Linked DNA regions of Homo sapiens: region 2 is linked to region 1. The links come from fine-mapping of genetic effects on gene expression. Tissue or cell type: whole blood. Region 1 holds a variant in brackets; the other region holds the start of a gene. All regions are shown on one strand. Distances are from middle to middle.

Region 1 (8,105 bases):
TGCTGGTTTCCTCTGGCCCCAGCCTCTTCCCACTTGTCAGGCCACCTCCCTCCCACTGGCGCTGGGGTGGGAAAAGCTGAGAAAGTCCAGGAGGAAACTATGGCGAAATAAAAACCTCTTTCTCCTCTCTCCCCTCTATTCTACCACTTCCTCCCCAGCCTGAAGTTTCTCTTCCTCACCCAGCTAACACACAGGCTGAAGGTGAGTGACAGTGTTAGGGAGCCTTTTGGAGGTCTGACTAGAACCTGAAGACCCATTGGCTCCCAGGGGTCAGAGACTTCATGACCAGGCCTGCCTGGAACCGGGGAGTTCCATGTCAACAGGAGGGGAAGAGGAGAAAAGAGATGGAGATTCACTTCCAGGAATGGAGGTGCAGGGGGTGTCTATGGCAAAGGTGGGAGAGAGTAAAGCCTGGGGAGGGGAAGATGGGGAAGGGAGGAGGAGGGGAAAGGGTATCTCAGTCCCCAGATCATCTCCTTCCCCAGCTCTGAGCTGCCATAATCACTCCAGAGCCTTTGATGAAAGATGACACTAATCAAACACATTTAAAAATAATTGTCCTTAGATGAACTATAGAAAATCAATTGTCACAGGCGATTGACAGTTAATAAACAACAAAGAAAAGAAAAACTATAAACCGTGGTGCTGCAGGTTGGGTTCCTGGGCACAGAGTCAGCTGCAGATTAGCACTGGAGGTTTAAAGCGCTCTGGGACCAACATCTGGGGAAGAGAAGAGCAGGAAGCAGGATGGGGCATGTGAATCCAAAATATCAGAGAGAGGCCTCAATCAATTCAGAAAGTCTACTTTGCCAAGGTTAAGGACATGCCTATAATAGTCTCAGGAGCCCTGAAGACATGTGCCCAAGGTGGTTGGGGCACAGCTTGTTTTTATACATGTTAGGGAGACGTGAGGCATCAATAATTATATGTAAGATGTATATCGACTCGGTCTGGACCAATGTGCATTTGGTCCAGGGTTTGTGTGGACGGGGCAGTGGGAAAGGCGGCTTCCAAGTCGTAGATAGATAAGAGACAAAAGGTTGCATTCTTTTAAGTCCTCTATCAGTCTTTCACTGAACACACAATTTAGTCTGGCTCAGTGAATCTGCATTTTTACATAAACAATAGGGCAGAGAAGCAATCAGATACGCATTTGTCCTAGGCAAGCAGAGGGATAACTTTCTTTCCTGCACCTGTGAAGACCAGCTAGCAGTTTACATTGCCAGGGTGAAAATCAACAGAACTGTTTTAGGGTAAAGATCTCAAGGCCCACAAAGAATTGTCTTGTGGGCAAATTGTGAGGGAGGTACATAGTTTTTTAATCTTTGTAGCTATCTTATTTAGGAATAAAATGCGAGGCCAGTTTGCCTGCTGTAGTTCCCAGCTTGATTTTTCCCCTGGCTTAGTGATTTTGGGGTTCTGAGATTTATTTTCCTTTCACAGGCAGAAGGAGAAGTCAGGCTGCAATAGAGGCCATAAGGAGACTCAGGCTATCCTGGGAGGAGTTCCTAAGACAGGATGGCCCTTCAGGACTTGTCAGTCAGGGGAGGTGGGGTGTCCTGGGAGGGGAGTCTGGCCTTGGCAAGGTGGCTTTCTGCAGCTGAGGAAGACCCCAGAGAAGCTGGCAGAGGAGACCTGCCCTCACCACTCCTAATGTCCATCAGTCCCACATGAGGAGCTGGCAGCACGGCATCCACTCTCTCAATTTGATCCAGAGTGAAAGCATGTTGCAGCCATTGAAGAGAACTGTAAACCTAATGCCTGCTTGCTGGGCTCCATGCAGGTGTGTGTATATCCAGGAGGTACTGGATTTACTTTATTTGTTCTTCCATTGGCCATGATGGCCAGCCCTTCCCAGGTGTGTGTTCTATGTCCACAGCCTGTTGCTCAGGAAGCTTTATTGTCTCACCTGCTAAAGTGAGCAGCCTGTCCGATGCCCCACCTGCCCTGCACCTTCCTGCCGTGGATCTGCTGTGGATCTGGGTCCCTGGAGCTTCGAGAAGAAGGTTGAGAGAGGAGGGAGGAAGTGAAAGGCTGGTGTGTTTAGGAAAGTGTCCAGTTGGGGCTGGGGATATGGGGCTTGGTCTATAGCTCCTCAGCCCCCGTGTCCTTACCATGGGAGTTCATATGGGAGCAGGCTCCTAGGGTGAGCAAATTGTGCTGGTTCACTTGGTTCCAGGAACCCCTCAGGGGCATACAGGGACAGTTGGTCACCCTCACAGCTACCGTGCTCTACTTCAGGACACAGCTAAAGGCCTCTGCTTGGGTTCAGCAACCAGCTGGTGAGTGGCCATGTCCCCTTCCACCCTCCACAGCCCTTCTCGTCAAGCCTCCCCATGGCTCCCAGCTGCCATGGCCTGTGCAGTCTCTGCACCTAGATCTCACCTCCTGACTCCACCCTGTGGTTTGCGCCTCAGATAGAGCCCCACCTCCTCCCTGAAGCCTGCCTGGCTAGCCAGAGCCTGCAGGATTCCCAGTTCCCCATCTTGGAAGGACTTGAGAACCTCCTATCTCTTGCACTGTGGTGTCTTACCCTGTGCTAAGGTCTGGGGTGTACCCAGCAGTGCCATGTCTCCCTTCCCTCAGAGGCTGTGAGCAGATTGAGGCCAGGGCTGGTTCTTGTTCTTTTCCGGTGTGCCCCACCTCATTAATGCTGAGCTGTGTCCATGCAACTGTTCTGCACATGTTACTGGAAAGGGATCCCGATCCAGACCCCAAGAGAGGGTTCTTGGATCTCATGCAAGAAAGAATTCAGGGTAAATGCATATGGTAAAATGAAAGCAAGTTTATTTAAAAAGTAAAGGAATAAAGAATGGCTACTCTATAGGCAGAGCAGCAACATGGGCTGCTTAGCTGCTTATATTTATTGTTACTTCTTGATTATATGCTAAACAAGGGGTGGATTATTCATGAGTTTTCCAGGAAAGGGGTGGGCAATTCCTGGAGCTGAGGGTTCCTCCTCTTTTCAGACCATATAAGGTAACTTCCTGATGTTGCCATGGCATTTGTAAGCTGACATGGTGCTGGTGGGAGTGTCTCTTATCATGCTAATGCATTATAATTTGCATATAATGTGCAGTGAGGACAGCCAGAGGTCACTCTCATTGCCATCTTGGTTTTGGTGGGTTTTAGCTGATTTCTTTACTGCAAACCTGTTTTATCAGCAAGGTCTTTATGACCTGTATCTTGTGTCAACCTATCTCACCCTGTGACTTAGAATGCCTAACATCTGGGAAGGCAACCCGGTAGGTCTCAGCCTTATTTTACTCAGCCTCTATACAAGATGGAGTCCATCTGGTTTAAACACCTCTGACACACATACCCAAGGAAGTCAGAAGAGGCTTCAGAGCTCCTCTCCACCCTCCTGTTACAGTCTCACCAGTGCACCACAATGTAGCAGTCTCTCATTGTTTGAGGTATCACTGGAGTTCTTTGTCTCACAACAATGAAAATTAAGGAGCGTGGACACCAAGGATGAGGTTGGAGTGAAAGTTTAATGAGTGAGAGAAGAAAGCTCTCTGCTGTGGAGAGGAGGCCTGAAAGAGGGTTGCCATTTTTACAGTTGAATGTAAAGGCTTTTATAAGAAACCGATGAGGACTGGGCAGCTCATCTGCATAAGGCATGAATTTCTGGTAGCTCCCTGCTGTCCTTCTAATGTACATGTGGGCCCTTGGCTTGAGTTACTTACTCCATATTGCTTTGTTCCCCTTACTGCACATGTCAGGGGATGAAATTTTCCATTGCAGGCATGTTTGGGCAAGTCACCTGTGTAGTCTGTCTTATCTATGAGGCTGTGGGCATGTCTTAGGCAAGCCCCCCTGTGCAAGTTCCCATATCTGTGCCTGCAGCTTGATTTTTCAGGCTGTTCTTTTGTTTAAAAGAATTCTACCGAGAACCCACCCTAACTGCCTGCCTGACTGGTTTCTTCCTTTCTCCTCTCTCACTCCTTCTCCAGATGAGGAAACAAGATCAGAGAGGGACAGTGACTTGCCAAGTTCACACTGAGATGAGTCCACCCTGTACCCTCCCCTCCTCAAAAGAGGACCTTACCAAAGGGACTGTCATCGGGGGCCCTCAACATCCATATAGTGATGACACTTGGGAAGAGATATGACAAAA[G/C]CAAGAAACAGAATCCTAAGGTCTTAAATGTAATGTTGGAAACAACATTAGAGCTGGAAAACAACTTAAGGAATAATGGTAATGAGGCATTTGCATCATTGTACAATGCTAATGTTATTTTATCTTGAAAACAATCTTGAGAAGTAGGAATTATTGTCCTCTTTCACAAGACAGGAAAAATGAGGCCAAGGGTTAGTGACTTGCTGAGGGTCACACAGTGACAGAGTGGTATCCTGGTCCCTGTCCCTGACTTCTTCCCTAGGGCTCCTCCTCCTGGGCATCTCACTCAGAGGAAGCAGGGCCATCAGTGGTACTGGTGCCAGCTCTTGGGGAGCTATTTTCCCCCAGGTGGGTTAAGTTCTCTCCTAGTATACAACAGGATGGTGGCTACACCGTCATGATAGGGAGAACAGCTATCTTAGGAGGCTGCTTGCTAGACAGAGATGGGTGTGTGTGCGTGTCTGTCTGTCTGTCTGTCTGTCTGTCTGTCTGTCTGTCCTGGGTCCAGAGCCGTCAATTCTTCAGCCTCAGTCTTCCCTCTATTGCCCTCTCCTGGACATAGGGAAGAAGTGCCTCCTCCCTGCTGTCCCCCAGGATTACTCCCTGCCTCTTCCACTCTCCCCACATCCATCCTGAAGTGGCCCCTCTGGCTGTCCACCAGGGTCCTGGCTGTGTCACTCTCTTGGCCATTGGAACGTCCCTGACCCAGGGTTCAATGCACAGTTGTCACATTTATCCCCAGGTGCTATTCCAGTCACTCCAGGTCAGTAGACACCTGTGTGTGTGTGTGTGTGTGTGTGTGTGTGTGTGTGTGTGTGTGTGTGTGTGTAGGGGAATCCAGGCTGCATTCTCCAGCCTTCATTGCTGGACGCCAAGCCAGTGCTCTGGACAATAGAGGCTGAGTCTGAGCCCTGAGTCAGTGGGTGGGAGGCAGATTCCTCGGGACATTGGGTCCCTGGCCAGAGGCTACTTGGGCTCCATTTTCCCTGTCCCCCTGCCTGGGCCAGTCCTCCAGGCCGTGGTCAGTTCCAAGTTACTGTCTTCACTGTGTCCCAAGTGTGTCTTCTCTCTCTATCCTGAGGGGTAGGAGGAGGGTTGCTCCACCCTTCCTCTGAGCCATGGTCTCCCCACCAGTGTCTGTGGGGTGAGCAGCCTCCATACAGAGCCAAGGTCTCAGCCACCCCAGGGTATGGACTTCCTGGAGGCTGCTGGGTCCCCTGTGGGAACTCAGACTTGGAGCCCAGGTGTAGAAGCTGGGGGAGAGAGCCCCAAGTCCAGCCTCTGCACTTCAGTCTTGGGAGAGGCTGACCCTGCAGCCCAGAGGCTCTTAGCTGCCTGGTCACAGCTTTCTAAGGAGGCAGCGGCCAGCAGGAGGCAGCAGTGAGAGCGTGGGCTCTGCGCGGTCCCAGGACAGGAGGGAGGAGCAGCCCCAGTCAGGGCAGGGCCATCCAGAGGCCCAGCAAAGGACACCTGTCCCGACAAGAGAAGCTGCCAACCCCTCTGTGGGTCCCCAGCTTTTAGTCACTGTTTCCTCTCCTCCAGGATGGGACATCACTGCCTCTGGCATTCGTGAGCCCGATTCTTTCTTCCCTAACCTTAGGGGAAGCTGAAGCAGAACGGAGGGAAGCAGAGGACACAGTGGCCCTGGTGGGGAGGGCAGCTCAGCCCAATAGGGTTTCTGAGGCAGACGGGAGCTGAGGTTCTCTGTAAACAGCACTCTCAGGGTTCCCCTGCCTCCACCAAGAGCCCTGGGGTCTGCAGCTCCGAGCAGAAACCACTGGTCACATTTCCTCGGGACTTTCTCCCTGATGCCCTTTGCTCTGGGCCCCTCCCCAGGTTCCTGCCCCCAAGGAGAACACTGGGCTGTGGGGCTGCTTAGGATGGCAGCCTCTGGGTTTGGGAAGTCCTGGGTGAGTCCAGCACTGCACAAGTCCTCCAGCTTCATAAGATCGATACTGGCCCCAATCTTCACCCCTCCTCTAACCCCCTGGGGCCACTCTGGGAGAAGCTCCCCACCCCATGCTTAAGTGGCCTCAGATCAAGTAGACTTCCACATAGGGCTCTGGTCTTCCAGGTGGGTCACGTGTAGAAGGATCGCTGCACATGCTGTAGCCTGCAAGAAACAGGGAGAGCTGAGGAAGTGTCCTGCCCTGCCCACGGTGCCCCGATGCTCCTCCACCAGCCCCAGCCCCTTTCTGGCTCTGCCTCTGGTTCCTTCCAGGTCATCCCCTTAGGGTTGTGCTGGGTGGTCTCCGCCTGGCCGCCCTCCTCCCCAGGTGGAAGCGTCATAGTCCTTTTGACTGGACACAGGCCAAGGGCCATACCACGTGGGGACTCGAGGTCATAACCCTTAGTGCAGTTACCCAGAGCTCTGCCCTCAGGAGGCTGGGAGGTGGGCTCTACTCACTTGCCATGTGTCTCTTCTTCCAAAACCCATAGACCATGATCAGCATCAGCACCAGGAGGGTCAGCACCACCCCAAGCACAGTGGAGTAAACATCCTGGTGCCTGAGAAGAAGGGACAGGGTGGAAGCGGGTGAGCACCAAGGTCCCCCATCCTAACCCACGTTGGGATCGGACCAGCAGCAGAAACCCTGAGAGCGTGCCCTTCCCGGGGTAGACGGCCACCCTCTTCCTTACAGACCCGGCCACAGAAGCAAGTGTGACATCCGGAGTTAAGAGGAGGACGTCCCCAGGTAGAGGGGAACATCTCTCTACTTTGGTACCTCTCCTCCATTATGCCCCCAAATCTGTTCATCAGTGAGGATGAGGATTCTAGGAGACTCCCATTTGTGGCTAAAGAGATCAAGATGCTTGCTCTCCTCAAGGGGTCTGAGGATGCCTGTTCCCCCACTCTATCCTCTGTAGCAGATGCTGTCGGGCCCCTGCCTGTGTCCTCTTGCCTGTGTCATTTCCACCTGCACACATCATCAGCACCTCCTTTTCTGTGGGTGGGAGGCTGAGGCCTTTCTCTTGTCACTAGAGCCCTCTATGCCACACACAGCAGGCAGCCCTCTACTGATAACCAATTGGAGTTGGTGTGTAACTATGCGGGCTCCTTTGCCCTTCAGATGTGTGTTTTATGCTAGATCTGACTCTCCCCGTTGGGATTAGGCTCTTGTTGTGCACAGCAGCTGCTTGGTTAAGTACTCTTTATTAGAGGCCTTCCCTGCCCTGTCCCACTCCCCCACCTTTTTTCCAGTGTTCATATAAGACGCAAATCCCTGACTCAGAGTCAGTTTCTCTAGAGGAATCCAAATTAAAGCATCCCCCATTTTCCACTTCCTACTCCATGAGGCGCATCCTTGCCCTATCCTCACCCTCTCCTCTCCATCCACAGACACTTCAGGACACCCATCCCCTGACATGCTCATCTCTGACTCTCATCCCCCCTGGCCCTAATTCTACCAACTCTCATTGCCCCCTACCCTCATCTCTGCAGCCCCCCTCTCCCCTGATACTCCTCCCACTGACCTTCTTCTCTGACTCTCCTCCCCCACAACCTTCATTTACCCCCATCCTCATCCCCCTGACCCTAATGCCCCCGACTCTCATAGTCCCCTGCCCTCATCCCTGCAACCCTCATCTCCCCCTACCTTTATCCCGACCCTCCTCTCTGCTGACACTTCCCCCACCTTCCTCCCACCAACTCCGCTCCCCACTGACCCTCATCCTTCCTGATCCTCCTTTCACCTGACCTTCCTCCTCCCTGATCCTCCTCCCCCGACCCTCCTTTCCCCTGTCCCTCCTGTCCCCACCCTTCTTTCCCCTGCCCCTCCTCCCCACTGACCCTCCTTTCCCCTGCCCCTCCTCCCCACCCCCGACCCTCCTTTCCCCTGCCCCTCCTCTCTCCTGCCCCTCCTCTCCATTGCCATCCTTTATGTCACTTCCAGTCCCCCACCTCACATTCAGAAGCAGGCCACATTGGGTTCCTGGGGAGCAAAAGGGGAAGGTCAGATATAAGACTTGCACCTCCAGGTCTGTT
Region 2 (8,102 bases), 37 kb after region 1:
TTCTGGGGAGTTTAAGTAATCAACTTGTTTTTAGAGCAGTTTAGGTTCTCAAAACAATGAGAGAAAGTACATAGAGTTCCCGTATACCTCCTGCTCCTCACATGCACAGCCCCCCACTATCCACATCCTGCCCAGGGGTCCGGCTGTTACAGCCGGCTACCCTACATTGAGGCACCCTGTCCTGTCATCAAGCACACAACCGTCCTGAGGGCTCACTTTTGCTGCTGAGCACGCGCTGTCTGTGCTTTGACAGACGTGTGATGACATCAACTCATCATTGTGGGATCACACAGTTGCCCCACTGCCCTCCAAATCCCCTGTGCTCCCTCGTTCATCCCCTCTGTTTATAAATAGGGAAAAGGTTATTCCAAAACTGGCTTCAGTTCAGTGATTAGTGTGGAGGAAAAAGGGCTCCATGTAAAATAAAGCTTCTTCCCCAAAGCCTCGGAATTTTAACCCTCAGAGGGCAGAGGGCCCACGTTGGCTTTCCTTTCTTTACTTGGTCTTCTCTGCCCTCCAGCTGCAGTTTGGGAAGCCTCCAGGCCTGGAGCATGGAGAGGAGAAGAGGAAGGGTCAGGAAAGTCTGGTGATGACCCAAAGAGTTCAAGCTGAGGTTTCTCAGAGGGCACCGTTGTGGGCTCTTCCGATGACACCCTGCCTGTCACCTGCAGCTTCCTCATGTAGCCTTGGATCTCCTTCCTGGTGGGTGCTCCTGACATCTCCTTCAGCCTCCAAGCCTTTCGCAGTCCACTTCCAGCTTCCTGCCATGCGTCCCTCCACCTCCAGCAGGCCTTTTGGGTGGGATCTACAACCACCCATGCTGGGTGCCTCACATCTGTGCAGCCCAACATCTGGCCCACGGAAGCCATCCACTTCCTTCACCCCAACAAAGTCATGGAGCCTGGGGGCCCCCACAAGGTCACCTCTCCTCCATTCCACCATCAGGACAGCTTGCCGCCTGCTGTCTCTACCCAATACAGCTCTCAGACTGAATCCAACTCAGCTGCTACATCTCCCAGACTGCAGGGGCCACAACCATCTTTCCAAGTTGTGACCCTATCTCAAGCCTCTCCCTAGGTTTGAGATAAGATGCAGGAATCTAACCCTCTCCTCCCCCAGGGTCACAGCACAACTACCAGCTGTCTCCAAAAGTCCTCTCCCAATCTTCACACTCCTCACAACTTTCTACCCTTGATGTGTGTGAGGGATTCATTCCTCAAAGAAGGTTTCAATACCTTTTGGCATGTGCTTCACACTGGCCTCCCACCTCACTCTGACAGATAGCATATATTTTCTTGGGACTTGCATTAGTCAAGATTTAGCTGCAAACTACAAAATCCAAGCTACGGATTTTAAGGAGAAAGAGATTTTTAAAATCAAACATTAAATGCTTTACAGAATCAGATCCTATGTAATTTCTGGGCATCACTCTTAAAGCCACAGGATGGGCTACTAAGGGACCACTGCCTTTGCCACAGTCAACACCCTTTCCAAATCAGGCAACTTTCCAAATCTGGAAGCTGCCATCACAGCCCTGGCTAAAGAACCCCTCCATCTCACCCATAGTCTACCGGCACAATGGATGCCTCTCTTCCCATTCTAGCTCACTTCCTCATTTAAGTCTCATACAAATACATTGAATGGGTGGGACCTAAAATATATCTGGAACCCTAGCTGCAAAGGAATCAGAAATGATCTTGTAGACCTTTTACTATAGAAAGACCCATGAAAAAGAGGTGGCAGCCACTCATAGTGGCTCACACCTGTAATTCTAGCACTCTGGGAGGCTAAGCTGGGTGGATCTCTTGAGTCCAGGAGTTCAAGACAAGCCTGGCCAACATGGTGAAACGTTGTCTCTATGAAAAGCAATAATAATAATAATAACAAGGTGCATTGGTGTGTGCCCACACTCCCAGCTACTCAGGAGGCTGAGGTGGGAGGATCACTTGAGCCCTGGGAGGTCAAGGCTGCAATGAGCCATGATCACACCACTGCACTGCAACCTGGGCGAAAGTGTAAAACTCCATCTCAAGAAAAGAAAAAGAGAGACAGAAGAAGAAAAAAGAAAGAAAGAAAGAAAGAAAAGAAAAGAAAAAAGAAGGAAGGAAGGAAGGAGAAAGAAAAAGAGAGAGAAGGAAAGAAGGAAGGAAGGAAGGAAGGAAGGGAAGAAAGAAAGAGGTGGCAATGAATATATAGTGAGTTCACAGTGTCTACCTGAATACTCTCAGCCAAAACTGAGATCACAATAGTTAAAATTTATAAGTTTTGTTGTTTCTTTTGCTGTCAATGAAAGTCAAATATGACTAAGTGAAAAATAAACATATAGTATTTGCTTTGTTATGTCAAATAAACGCTATTTGTAAAAATATAGTATTTGCCTTGTTACACCAAATAAACCCTATTCTGTAGTATAAACGTTATAGTAACAAATTTTCATTTACAGCAATCAGTACATCGGACACTATGTGTGACATATCACACTGAAGGCATCAAATGATACAGATGCAGAGAATAAATTCCTATTTTCCTCTTCCAGAATTTATCATACTTTTCTTAGAAACTTCAGTGTGTTTAAGAAAATGACTCTTATTACCATCAAGTGTTAGTAGGTGCTTTACACCTAGCCGTACTAAGATTTCTTAAAACTTTGCTGTTTGTTATGTACACGCTGTTTGTTATGTATCAAGTGATTATTCATATGCTTTGTGTAAATCGTTTCTATACATATTAAAACTAATCTTTTACACTTAGAATGCTTTCAGATTCACAGAAGAGTTGTGTAGGTATTGCATACTTCCCTGATGTGCTATGTTCAATGTCTTCTATTATTAATATAGTCCAATAGTATGCTACATTTCTCACAATTAATGAGTTGATATTGATACATTACTATAATTTTACAAAATTGATGAGTAGAACTCATATATTTATAATGCGTGGTAGGATAGTTTGATGTGTGTATTAACTGTGAAATTACTAAATCAAGCAATACCACATATACTTACTTGTTTTGTGGTGAGAACATTTAAAATCTATTTTCTGTCATTTTCAATTGTACAATTCATAGTTATGAACTGCACTCACCATACTGTGCAATAGATCTCTTGAACTTATTTTTTCTGTCTAACATATTGTGTTTCTTCAACAATACCTACCCAGTTTGTCCAATTCCCAGCCTCTGGTAATGCCATTCTACTCTGTTTCTGTGGTAGATTTTATTAATTGAAGTCCTTACTTCATTCAGATTACCCTGGCTTTTACCTCATGTACTTTCTGTGCTCCAGGATCCCACCTAGGAAGCCACATTGCTTTTAGTCTTCATGTCTGCTTAGGCTCCTCTTATTCATAGCAGTTTCTGAGAATTATTTCTTAGTTTTGATGGCCTTGACAGTTTTGAGGAACGCTGCTCAGGTATTTTGTAGAATGTCCCTCATGTGGAATTTGTTTGATGTTTTTCTCCTGGGGCCAGCGGCTTTGGGGAAGGAGACTGCACAGCTAATTGCCCTGTCATCACATCAAGTCAATGACACATTCTAACAACCTGAGTTATCCCTGTGGGTCTGCACTTTGGTTGCCTGGCTGCCACAGTAAGTGTCAGGTTTCTCCACTGTACAGTTACTCTTCTCTTCCTTCCCATGCTATCCTCTGGAGGAAAGTCACCTGCACAGCCCATGCTTAAGCCGTGGGAATTTATGCTTCTGCCTTGAGGGCAGAATACCTATAAGAATTGTTTGCAATCTCTCTCAGTCCCTTCAGGCTGCTATGAGAAGATGCCTTAGACTGGAGACTTTCTAAATAATAGAAATCTCTTTCTCAAAGTTCTGGAGTCTGGGAAGTCAAAGATCAAGGTGTCAGTGGATGTGGTATCTGCTGAGGGCTGCTCTCTGCTTCCAAGGTGGTGCTTTCTTGCAGTAACCTCAGTTGACTGAAGGCATGAACACTGTCCTCATATGGCAGACAGCGCAAATCTGCTTCCTGCAATCTCTGGTATAAGGGCATTAATTGCATTCTTGAGGATGACGCCCTCATGACTTAAGATTTTCCCACAAGATCCCACCTCTTAACGCTATCACATGGAAATTAAGTTTGAATATATGAGATGGGGGAACAACATTCTGAACACAGCAGAATCCTTATGCATGGGATATTTGTCTATTCCCCCCCCCAGTTCTTTATTCAGTCATTTACTTACATCAGCATGGACTCCTAGAGATTTAATATATACATTGGGTAGTAATCCAGTACCACTTGGTTTTGTTGCTAGATAGTTCTCACTTCGGCCATTTTCTTTTTCTGTACATTTTACACACGCGTTGTTCTTTCATCCACTGATGTATTCATCCAACAAGCACTGATTGAGATGATCCCAAGCTACCATAACTGATCCACTCCTACCTGCCTTCCCCTCCAACTTTCCCTGACCAGCACTCTCTTTCCTCCCTGCTTTCCTGGCCCCACCATTTCCAGGGAACATCTTGTAATTCCTGGGATTAAAATCTGCCCTCTACAAAATGTCTCAGGGTCAAAACTCATCATCAACCCACCATGGCTAGACCAGAAGGATTCAGGGGTCTGGTCGTGCCTCCAAGGGCCCTGACCACCTATAGGAAGTGCACAGAGAGAAGGAAAGAGGGATGACCCCAGCTTTATTCACCAGCTTTATTCTTGGCCATGCTGAGAGCTGCCCCTAGCAATAGAGGAGCAGTATGACTGGCTGGAAGGCATAAAGCAGCAGACATGGGGAGAAGTTCAGTGAAAGGCGGCAGAGCAACACAGCAGGGCTGAGGTGCCCAGGCCCAGAGACAGACCCTGTAGCTGGTGGCCCCTTTCAAGGCCTGGCTGCCCCTCCTCCCCTGGTCTGCAGAGCCCGCCCTCCCAGGCCGACCATTTCCCCAGCAAGACATTGACTTCCTCAATTTTACCAGCTGAGAGACACTGGGAACCTGGGGCAGAATCAGACCCAGCGTCTGACTCCTCCTGAGAGGGCTCCCTTTTTTCTCCTCTCCTCCGCTGTCAGAAACAGATCTGGGCTGGAATGGCCTGGGGTGGGGTCCACACCTGCTGCTTCCACCTGTGCTGCTGCTGCTCCTGGCCTCAGGTGACATGGAGGGAAAGAGTGCAGGGGGTGTAAGGAGTGGGATGAAGAATGAGTGGGGCAGGGAGCAGCATGGCTGTGTGACCATAGGACAGAATTTAGGGGCCCTCTTCCATGTGTGGGCATCAGAACTAGTTCCCCCTCCCCTTCCCCAGCCTGTGATGGGGGAGGTTGGGTCCCTTCAGAGCTCTGACCTGGGTTTCTTTCTGCCGGTTCCTGGGTAAAGGGTGCTGTGCCTGAAGAACTTCACAAACACCCAGGACAGACCCTCCTCCTGCAATGCCAGTACTCACCCAAGAGAGGGCCCTATCAGCCCAAATCCTGGTGTCAGCAGACATCTCCAAGTCGGTGTACCTTACTTGTCACCAGCTCCAAGCCCTGGACAGCAGTTCAGAAGTCTCATTACACAATCTGGGACAAGCCCAATGCTGGCTTCTTCAACATCACCATGATTCAGCTGACACAGAATGACTCGGGATTCTACTGGTGTGGAATCTACAACGCTTCCGAAAACATCATCACTGTTCTTAGAAATATCAGCCTGGTGGTGTCTCCAGGTGAGCTCTTTTCTTGAGGAAATACCTCTGTGCCACCCCCCAGGGACCTGAAGGAAATGTCATGCACCCCCTCCCATGCCTCTATCATCCCCCATCCTGCCAGGTATTCTGCTGTGGTCCAAGGGGAGCAAAGATCCTGTCCCCAAACATGGACTCTCACCTCTCCTCCACCCGGTACATCCTGGCCTCAATTGTTGGGAAGGTACCCTCAGAGGTCCCTGGACAGAGACACAGTCTGTCTGTCACTCTGCGTCTCTCTTTGTCTTACACAGGCACACCCACAACTCTTCTTTTCACACACACACTAACACACACACACCAACAACTCTGTCATGCAGATCTTAGGCACAGACCACTCCTGGCTTAAGACATCCTGAGGGTCTGGCTCTGGGCCCCTACCTCCTCTTATGTATGGGGTAGACCCTACTCTCTTCTGGGCCCCTGGAGAGTCATTGTCTGCTGTCTTTTCTCTTTAGCCCCAACCACGTCTCCTATGTGGACTCTTCCCTGGCTCCCAACAAGCACAGGTAGGTTGGAGGCCTCGGTGGGGGAAGATTAGAAGGGTCACCAGGCAGCTTGGGAGCCTCAGATTCAGGGAAGGGGAAACCAGGGAGGCCTGCCTCTGAGGACTGATCTCTTGGGGCCTGGGCTTGTGGGAAGCTACCTTCAGGGCCCACTGTCTCTTAGGGAGAGAAACATGCACTATCTGATGTGATCAGAAGATCGCCATGTTCTCACGATGATGGGAGGGTGTCCCCAGAGGGAAGTCCATATGGAACACCTTGCACACGTGTGTCCCAGCCCTCCTGCCCCTGTCCTCCCGCCAGCATGGAGAGGACAGTGCCAGACTTGACTTCAGCTGGTTATGGAGATCTCAGGCCTCAGTTACCCTTAGCCTGAGGGACCCTTAGGGGCTGCCTCTGGCCCCTCTCCCCTTCCTCTCACACTTTTGGGACCCAATCCCATTCTCTATTCTGGTGCCCTGGGCAGCCACTGTCTTCTTTGTGTCCTCTTTAGTTCTGATCACTTCTCCAGAGGGGACCTCTGGCCATCCCTCCATCAATGGCTCTGAGACCAGGTAGGTCAGAGGTTTTAACACTGGGAGGGAGGTCTTGGGAAGGGAGGGCCTGATTAGCTCCTGAACCTTGGAATCAAGTCCAGGGCACCCAGGGATCCTTCTCTGGTGGGTTGGGGCATAGGTTACAGCCGTGGAGCCCCCAGGCCATGACTCAAAATTTGGTAGTGAGGAAAGGGGAAGAGGATGCAGGTTGTTAATTGTGGAGGAACCATGGAAAAGACAGTTCAACATGGATTTCTGCAATAAAACAAAATGGAACCCAGAAAATGTGGAAATTGGAGGCCGTGTTGGTGTGTTGAGGGGTGAGTATGAATAGAGTCACTGCAGCCTGGGGCAGATGGTGGCTGGAGATGTCAGCCAGAGAAAGATGAGAGGCATACTGTTAAATTCTGCTTCTATTCTTGCAGTCATGGGTTTTGAGGCCATGACGGCCTCCCCTTCACTGGAGGAATAGGCTGCAATAGACTAGGTCACAGGTGCTCTAGGGGACCATGGAGCACAGCAAAAGACATGAGCGATTGATGAAAATAGACAACTAACTGCCAGAGCATTTGCTCCGTAGCCCTCTTCTCCTGCAAACTCCAGCACGGGTAGATTACAAACAGACTATCTCTCAGGGAGTTTGAAGGTGAAACCCTAACCAGAGAAAAAGTATGGCAGCTAATGGGGGTCCCTGGGGTCTTGTGCTCTAGGGCAGTGATCCCCAAGCCTGTTAGAAATTGGGCCATAAAGTAGGGAGTGAGTGGTGAGCCACTGAAGTTCATTTGAATTACAGCCTCTTTCCATAGCTTGCATTACTGCCTGAGCTCTGCCTCCTGTCAAATCAGTGGCAGCATTGGATTCTCATAGTAGCATGAGCCCTGTTGTGAACTGTGCATGCGAGGGTTCTAGGTTGCACGCTCCTTATGATAATTGAATGGCTAATGATCTGTCACTGTCTCCCATCACTCCCAGATGGGACCACCCAGTTGTAGGAAATCAAGTTCAGGGCTCCCACAGATTCTACATTATGTTGAGTTGTATAATTATTTCATTATATATTACAACATGATAATAATAGAAATAAAGTGCACAATAAATATAATGTGCTTTAATCATCCTGAAACCATCCCCGACTCTCAGGTCCATGGAAAATTTGTCTTCCACAAAACAGTTCTCAGGCGCCAAAAAGGTTGGGGACTGTTGCTTTAGGGCTTTTTCCTCTCATTTTTAACCCTCAATGGCTAGAGGATTTAGTCTTCGGTTCTTCCCCATTACCAGATCCGTATCTAATATGCCCAGTGGAATCTGAATTCACAAGCCAAAATACCTAGGCTCTTAGTAGAAGCACTACCTTAAAAGAATGGAAACACACCCAACAATAGAAACCTGT

What was found. PIP is the estimated chance that this variant, and not a neighbour inherited with it, causes the effect.
Region 2: TREML4 starts here. The variant in region 1 is fine-mapped to the expression of TREML4 in whole blood (TOPMed, PIP above 0.99).

The regions. Positions count from the first base shown.
Region 1 is chr6:41,186,274-41,194,378 of GRCh38, forward strand. It overlaps TREML2 (triggering receptor expressed on myeloid cells like 2), which reads right to left. Exons shown (of 5, transcript NM_024807.4): 4 at 6,528-6,628; 5 at 3,476-6,233. The coding sequence ends at 6,154. LOC107986595 (a long non-coding RNA gene) reads right to left here and starts at 116. Exons shown (of 3, transcript XR_001744118.2): 1 at 1-116. RefSeq lists enhancers at 5,070-5,577, 5,196-5,265. The variant G/C (reference allele first, on the strand shown) is at 4,121.
Region 2 is chr6:41,223,393-41,231,494 of GRCh38, forward strand. TREML4 (triggering receptor expressed on myeloid cells like 4) reads left to right here and starts at 4,957. Exons shown (of 6, transcript NM_198153.3): 1 at 4,957-5,098; 2 at 5,322-5,652; 3 at 6,129-6,179; 4 at 6,670-6,730. The coding sequence starts at 5,036. LOC105375055 (a long non-coding RNA gene) reads left to right here. Exons shown (of 3, transcript XR_926794.3): 3 at 521-2,436.